Linked DNA regions of Homo sapiens. The protein of the gene in region 1 interacts with the protein of each later gene in a pairwise test. Each region holds a gene or a part of one and is shown on either strand. Other genes may lie near its edges.

Evidence for each region.
Region 2: the proteins of MACROH2A1 (region 1) and VCX2 interact in a two-hybrid assay, tested with the Homo sapiens proteins (one large-scale study listed by BioGRID).

The regions. Positions count from the first base shown.
Region 1 is NC_000005.10:135,343,647-135,347,465, forward strand, and holds part of MACROH2A1 (core histone macro-H2A.1), read right to left. Parts: intron 2,412-3,819; coding exon 2,322-2,411; intron 1,035-2,321; exon of another isoform or gene 1-1,034. UniProt on the Homo sapiens protein: Variant histone H2A which replaces conventional H2A in a subset of nucleosomes where it represses transcription. Nucleosomes wrap and compact DNA into chromatin, limiting DNA accessibility to the cellular machineries which require DNA as a template.
Region 2 is NC_000023.11:8,169,355-8,172,815, reverse strand, and holds VCX2 (variable charge X-linked protein 2), read left to right. Parts: upstream 1-1,548; 5' UTR 1,549-1,709; intron 1,710-2,026; 5' UTR 2,027-2,172; coding exon 2,173-2,274; intron 2,275-2,466; coding exon 2,467-2,784; 3' UTR 2,785-2,872; downstream 2,873-3,461.

The DNA.
Region 1 (3,819 bases):
ACCACCAGGAATTTTGACCAAGTTCGTAGTAAGCCTCTCTCCACTCTCAGAAAGCATACACGGTTCTCCCAGAGGCAGAGCCTTATCCATCAAAACTCAACTGAACGCAAACTCAACGTGTCAGAACATTTGCAGCCTCAAAATAATTGTTTTGGGTTTCCAACCCTTCTTCTTCAAGTCGACTGGTGTGCTAATTATCGACTTGCACACCAATATGATGTATTTGTCTCTACTATGATGTATTCTCTAAATCTCCCAAACCCAATTCAGGACAAAGCTACTAGGAAAGCAACTGCTTTAAATGATCTGCTAAGCAACCTGACCAGCATCTCCACTCTGCCATTGTCTTCTCCCTGCTGAGGATGGCCTCACTGTGTGAATAACGGATCCTGTTTATTTGTGGCAGAATTAGATTAGTTTTTAAGGAACTGTGTTTTTCTTTTCCTAGAAGAGGGGCCCCTTTCTAGCTATACATCTCCACCAAAGACTTGCCTTTCCCTTGCCAGATCTAAGGACACAGGCCTGGGGTCTGCCACAAACTGCAAAGTACCATGTCTCCCAGAGCATGTTCCAGAACCCCTGTCCACAGATGCTCTGCAAAGAAGGTTTCCAGGGCACTGGGTTTAGCTGCATGCTACGCTTCTATACAAGAGCACACCAGAGTCTCCACACCACTGCTAAAGTAAAACATCCAAACTTTTTGTATTTGGTTGGCTATTTCTGAAACTTTTTTTTTTTTTAAGGAATATCTGTCCAAGGGGTATGGTTTGTTATGGTCGTGTCATAGATACTGGAGAAGGAGCGATTTGTGGGTAGTGTCTCATGGTACAGTGGAAACAGCTCAGTCACAGGGTGTGAATTTGAGTCCTGGCTCTGCTTTGTGACTGGGCTTGAGAACTCTGGGCTGACCTATAAAAACCTGACATTGGGGGTTGAATTAAACCAGTGGGTTTGTCCCCATGAGAAGTCATGGCTAAACTATGCATAGAAAACGACTGGAAAGAAACATTAACAGTGACTATCTTTGCACAGTGGAACAGGAGTATGTTTTATTCACCTCTTTATACTTTCAAAAATATTTTAAAGCAGTTTCTAAAATAGCCCTTAAAATCAAGAACAAAAGTGTTATTGAAACAAGCAAAAATATCTTGAACCATGCTATACCTAATGGGTTTGCATCTGCTGTGGCTGAGGTTTCCCCAGCAGAGTTTGGTACATGGCAGCACCAGGCTGCCTACCAGGCCTTGTGCCAAGGGCTACCAGCAGGACTCAAGCTGGAACCCCGATGGGAAAGGACCCACAGGCTGGTCAAACAGGTGTTTTAAAGGGCCTGGGGAAAGGCCAGCTGCCCCTGGCTAGGTAGTTAAAACTGTGTATGCCTTCCCTTGTACAATGTGGGACTTTGGTGGAACTGCCTGGGAGAACTTCATAATTACTACCCTGTATGTCATGCCCCTTGCAGGTAAAACAGAAGTGGCAGAGCAGAGGTCAAAGGCACAGATCAGCAAAGGGAATCCTACTGGATCCTGAGACTAGCCTGGAAGGGGTGTCATTTGTCACTGGGAATAGAGGTGCACGGCCTGGTGGACCCTCCGAGAGAGCTTAAGATTCATTTTTAAAACAGAGGATTTAAAAGACACAATAGGCATTGGAATCGGGTAGTAAGAAGAGAAAACCAGAGCCCCAAGTGAGGAAGTGGGTGATCTGTCCTCACACAGTTGGTGGGGGAGCTGGGCCTCCCCACTGACTGGACTCTCAGGTCCTTAGGAGGTGCTCTGTCCTGCACACCCCAAATGACCACCTAAATTCAGGCCTGAAGCAGTAAGAAGTACCCTGCCTCCAGGTCTTAGCAATAATTCTCCCCACATCAGATGCCAAGTCGTTTTCTTCCCCTTATACCAGGGAAGGTGTAATTGGCAAATGAGAAATGTGTATTTATATGTTTCCTCTTACACACACAGATGGCTGAAGATTTTTAATTTGTATCTCTCACCAGCAGTTTTGCAGATGGCTCAGTATCACTCACTCTCAGCTCTTAGATGTACCAAACTCAGCTCCTATAATTTCTTAAAATTTGTGATCTAGACATCAAACATATAGGAGCTATTTTAAGTAATAAAAAAAAATGCAAAGGTGATTTTCCCAGACAACCTGCATGTGGTGAAACTCTAAGATGTAAAGCTACAGGCTGTCCTTGGCCTCCATCTTGAAGATGCGGCTGTGCTGCCACACACCTCTGAATTCTAAGCCCTCTCACAAAATGGCTTTCCTAATACTGCATGTGTCACAACCAGATAAGCACGGTGGCTTTCCCACCTCACCTCCAGCTACTTCCAAGGGCCCGTTCTTTTTCCGGAGTTCCAGGACAGCTTCCACAAACTCCTTGCCACCTTTCTTCTCCAGCGTGTTTCCTAGACAAGGACAGGGTGGGGTCAGGTTGCCATTCTGTGTCTCCGGCACACACAGACACTTAGCATGTCAGGTGATTACATACTTCAAATGATCTATTAAATTTCCATCAGGCTGCAAAACAGGAACTAAGCCTTGGCTAAGTTAATAAAGTAAAATTGAGAAGGGCTTTGTCATCACCAGTTACTACCCTCAAATTGCTGCTTCATCTGGCTGTCTCTGCTGCCCCTTATTTGGGTCTGACTCAGGGTGATCATGGATGTGCCAGAGATGTGAAAGAGACAGGACATGCTTGTTTTTTGCAAACATGCTTGTCCTGGATGCTTTTCATTGGCATGAGATACTAGCTGGTACTGGTTTCCAAGACTAATGCCTGCCTTAGGTTTTCTTCTCTGTCTCTGGGGAGAACCCCCAAGTAAGGAGGTTTCAGCAGCATACAATGCTCCCATCAATAAGCCAGCTCTCCTCCTGGCAGCAGGCCTAGAAGGAAGTGTTCATACCTGGCCACCTTTGGACCAGCATTATTACCATGCTTAGTTCCTGTTTTGCAGCTTTGGTGTCATATGCAAATACAAAATAAAAATGGCCTCAGACGGTATTTTCTTAATTACACTAATGATTCAGAATTGTTTTCAGTAAAGAAGGGCAACATCAGAAGCAGAGCTTAAAGATTAATCTGTGTTCTATAAAAAGCTTGGAAAGGAGGATGTCTAACTGCTCAGGACCAGATTTTTCACAAAAGCCAATGGAGATTGGGAGCAATGTGTTTTCTTCAATTAGGGCACTTGCTAAGTAATCAGTTCCTGCTGTGAAAACCAAGTTCCCAAACAAGATCACCAACACCTATGAGAACTCTGGGTTGATGCTCATGTGGGATAGCAAGTGGCAATCAAAGTTAGCAACAAGATCAGCCTTTCAAGTTTGGCCAGAATGGGGTCTGAGTCTTCCTTAAGCTCTGATTCCTCAGTTTTGCACATTTTAAAGTACTTTTCCTCACAAGAGGACAAAATACTCCCCTTAAGATTCACATCTGTCTTGGAAAATTCCAGGTGCACCTGGCACAATTCTGGTATGGGACGGTCAAGGTGCATCGGAATGCACCAGCCCAAATTCTCTTTGGAGTCACCCTGCGATGACCAGGGTTAATTATCTTAGTGAAACTTGCCTCCTTTGAATGTTTGTTCTGCAGGGGTGAACTAACCCCGGGAGGTGTCTGGGAAGAAGAGTAAATAGCTTGGGCTTTGTCCCAAATAAGAACCAGGGCTAATGGCTAGGACTGGGCCTGTACCCACCCGCTGTAGGAAACCTGGGGTGTGCAGATGAACATGACCAGCAGCCATAGCCCAGGGGAGCTCTCAGCTGTGTCCGAGAGAGGGTGGCACAAACTTAGCATCCTTGAGGTGGGATTTT
Region 2 (3,461 bases), on another chromosome or scaffold:
AACAGGAGATAATTTGAATATCTATGTGATGCCTGGAAAAAGCAAAATCCTTCCTAATCATTCTACTATTTTTTGTTGGAATAATAAATTACCACAGACATCTGGTGGTAAACATGTAATTAGCAACCTAAAGATAGCTAGAATTAGCCAGACCAGGTAATTGATTGCAGGAAGCTGAAGATAACTGGCCTATGCCAGGGAGTTCAATAACCATTTTCCTCAATGCAAAATTCCAACCTCATGTTAGAAATATTACCTAATATAGTAGATATCTACTTTATCCAAGTGAGTAATTAACTAGAGATAACTACATGAAGCCAGTACCTGGAATAAACAAATTCTTCTCAGTACTAGTTGAACAAACAACTAGCAATTACTAGGAAAACTGGTTGAACATAGAAAGTTTAGTAACCATTCGAGTCAATTCTGTATTCTTACTTTTTTAGGATTGTTGACTAGGTACTATGGATTTGGTAACTAGAGTTACCTGAGTAAGAGTTAAATACAGAATCCTCCATAAAACTGGAATAACTGGTTGAAGACAGAAGTATCACATTGCATTCTCCTCAGTATTTCTCATTTCTTGTTGGAATAATAAGTTGGTTCTGTCAATGGGTAGTGAGTACCTAGGTTATTACAAAGCAAGAAATAAGAAGAGATGACTAGAATAAATATTTGATACCAGAATGGTGAAAAAAACATTCTTTTCAAATAGAAACTCTAATTTCCTGTGTAATTAATGAGTTACAATTAGTTAGTACTGGAGATATCTATATGAGATGTGGACTTCATTTTTGGGGGGTGGTACATACTTAACAGATGAACTGCTGGGTCACATGGTAGATCTATTTTGATTTTCCAAGGAACCATTACACTGTTTTTTATAACGGCTGTACCAATTACACGTCTGTCAACAGCGTGTAACAGTGAGGTGATAGTTCATTGTGGTTTTCATTTGCATTCTCTGATTATTAACGATGTTGAGCACATTTTCATATACCTGTTGGCCAGTTGTGTGTTTTCCTTCTAGAAATGCCTATTCAAGTCCTTTGCCTATTTGTTAACCAGACTATTTATTTATTTGCTATTGAGCTGTGTGAGTTCTTTATATATTTTGGATATTAACTCATTATTAGATACATGGTTCGCAAATAGCTTCTCCCAAACCATAGCCTGCCTTTTCATTTTGTTGACTGTTGGCTGTGCAGAAGCTTTTAGTTTCCAGCCTGCTCACTTGCCCTATATATTTCAGCTTCCTAGACCCCCACATTGAGTCAATGTGTGAGCCAATTACTTAGAATAAACTGTATCATATATATAATTCATAAATACTACATGATAGTAAATATATATTTATGATATATAATATTACACACACACACACACACACACAATATCCTGTTGGTTTAGTTTCTCCTTCTCTGAGGAACCCAGCCTGATACCGAAACCCAGCCTGATACCGATACCCAGCTGAGCGAGTGTGTTTGCTGATCTTGACCTCTGGAAGCCAGTGCTTTAAACCATGAGAATGAAAAATTGTGAGGCACTATGTGGATGCTGGGAGAAGTATGTGAGATGGAAAAGTTGTTTCATGGCATCCAAGAAGTGAATGATCCTCAAGGTGTAGCAGAGGAATTTGTAGGAGAGAGGGATGATTGACGTCTTCGTATAGCCCTCCATCCATCCCAGTTAGCATGGAGGGATTTTAGATAGGTCATACAGAAACTGGGTAATGATGGCAGGTGTGGAGGAACAGAATGTACCACTGAATGGGAGGTCCGGGGGAAACATGTGGCGGAAATATCCTCCCGTGCCACGTGATCTGCCAAAATTGAACATGGGGAGTTTAGGAGGGGTGACATGTCAGTTTGGGAACTATCTTTAGGGGTGCTAACCCAAATCTCCCTTTCTCCAATTAGAGCACCCTGCCTTCCTCATTAGATGTCACCCCCCCCCCCCGCCCCCGACTTCATCCGCCATGTCCTGATGGTGCTTTGTGACGTATAAGGCCTTCCTTCCCGCCCAGGGCTACCATTGGCTGGGTAGTGGAGTGTTGACCAATCACAGCTCAGGGGCGTGATTGTCTCGTCCTGGGATCGCGAGAGGGGTATATACAGGGAGGCCAGGCAGCCTGGAGTTAGTCGACCGTTGCGAGACGTTGAGCTGCGGAAGATGAGTCCAAAGCCGAGAGCCTCGGGACCTCCGGCCAAGGCCACGGAGGCAGGAAAGAGGAAGTCCTCCTCTCAGCCGAGCCCCAGTGACCCGAAGAAGAAGGTGAGTGACCCTCCCAAGCTCCTCCTCGTCTTCCCCTCGCCTCCTTCCTCACAAGAAGCCTCTCCTGTCGTCACTTGGCAGAACCCCCCAACCCGGCCCCCACCGCTTCTGAGGACACGTCCCTGTTCCCAGCCTCCTCCATCCTCGTCCCTAAACCAGAGCCCTTCTGTGATCTCCCTGTTGTCCTTCCAGACTACCAAGGTGGCCAAGAAGGGAAAAGCAGTTCGTAGAGGGAGACGCGGGAAGAAAGGGGCTGCGACAAAGATGGCGGCCGTGACGGCACCTGAGGCGGAGAGCGCGCCAGCGGCACCCGGCCCCAGCGACCAGCCCAGCCAGGAGCTCCCTCAGCACGAGCTGCCGCCGGAGGAGCCAGTGAGCGAGGGGACCCAGCACGACCCCCTGAGTCAGGAGAGCGAGGTGGAAGAACCACTGAGTCAGGAGAGCGAGGTGGAAGAACCACTGACTGTGTGGATGGCCAGCTTTTCCCCTGTCTCCGAGAGCACCGACTAAGTTCAGGCCCAGCCGCCAGACCTCAGAGATCTCACCAGCGGGGTGCTTGCCATTCTGAAGATAATAAAATGAATGTGTTGCAAATTGATCTGAGTGACTCCGTGTTCTCTGATGGTGGGGAGGGAGGGAGGGAGGGGGGAAGAGGTGGTGTGTGGTGAGGGAGGGAGGGAGGAAGAGGTGGTGTGTGGGGAGGGAGGGAGGGAGGGAGGAAGAGGTGGTGTGTGGGGAGGGAGGGAGGGAGGAAGAGGTGGTGTGTGGGGAGGGAGGGAGGGAGGAAGAGGTGGTGTGTGGGGAGGGAGGGAGGGAGGGAGGAAGAGGTGGTGTGTGGGGAGGGAGGGAGGGAGGAAGAGGTGGTGTGTGGGGAGGGAGGGAGGAAGAGGTGGTGTGTGGGGAGGGAGGGAGGGAGGAAGAGGTGGTGTGTGGGGAGGGAGGGAGGAAGAGGTGGTGTGTGGGGAGGGAGGGAGGGAGGAAGAGGTGGTGTGTGGGGAGGGAGGGAGGGAGGAAGAGGTGGTGTGTGGGGAGGGAGGGAGGGAGGAAGAGGTGGTGTGTGGGGAGGGAGGGAGGAAGAGGTGGTGTGTGGGGAGGGAGGGAGGGAGGAAGAGGTGGTGTGTGGGGAGGGAGGGAGGGAGGAAGAGGTGGTGTGTGGGGAGGGAGGGAGGGAGGAAGAGGTGGTGTGT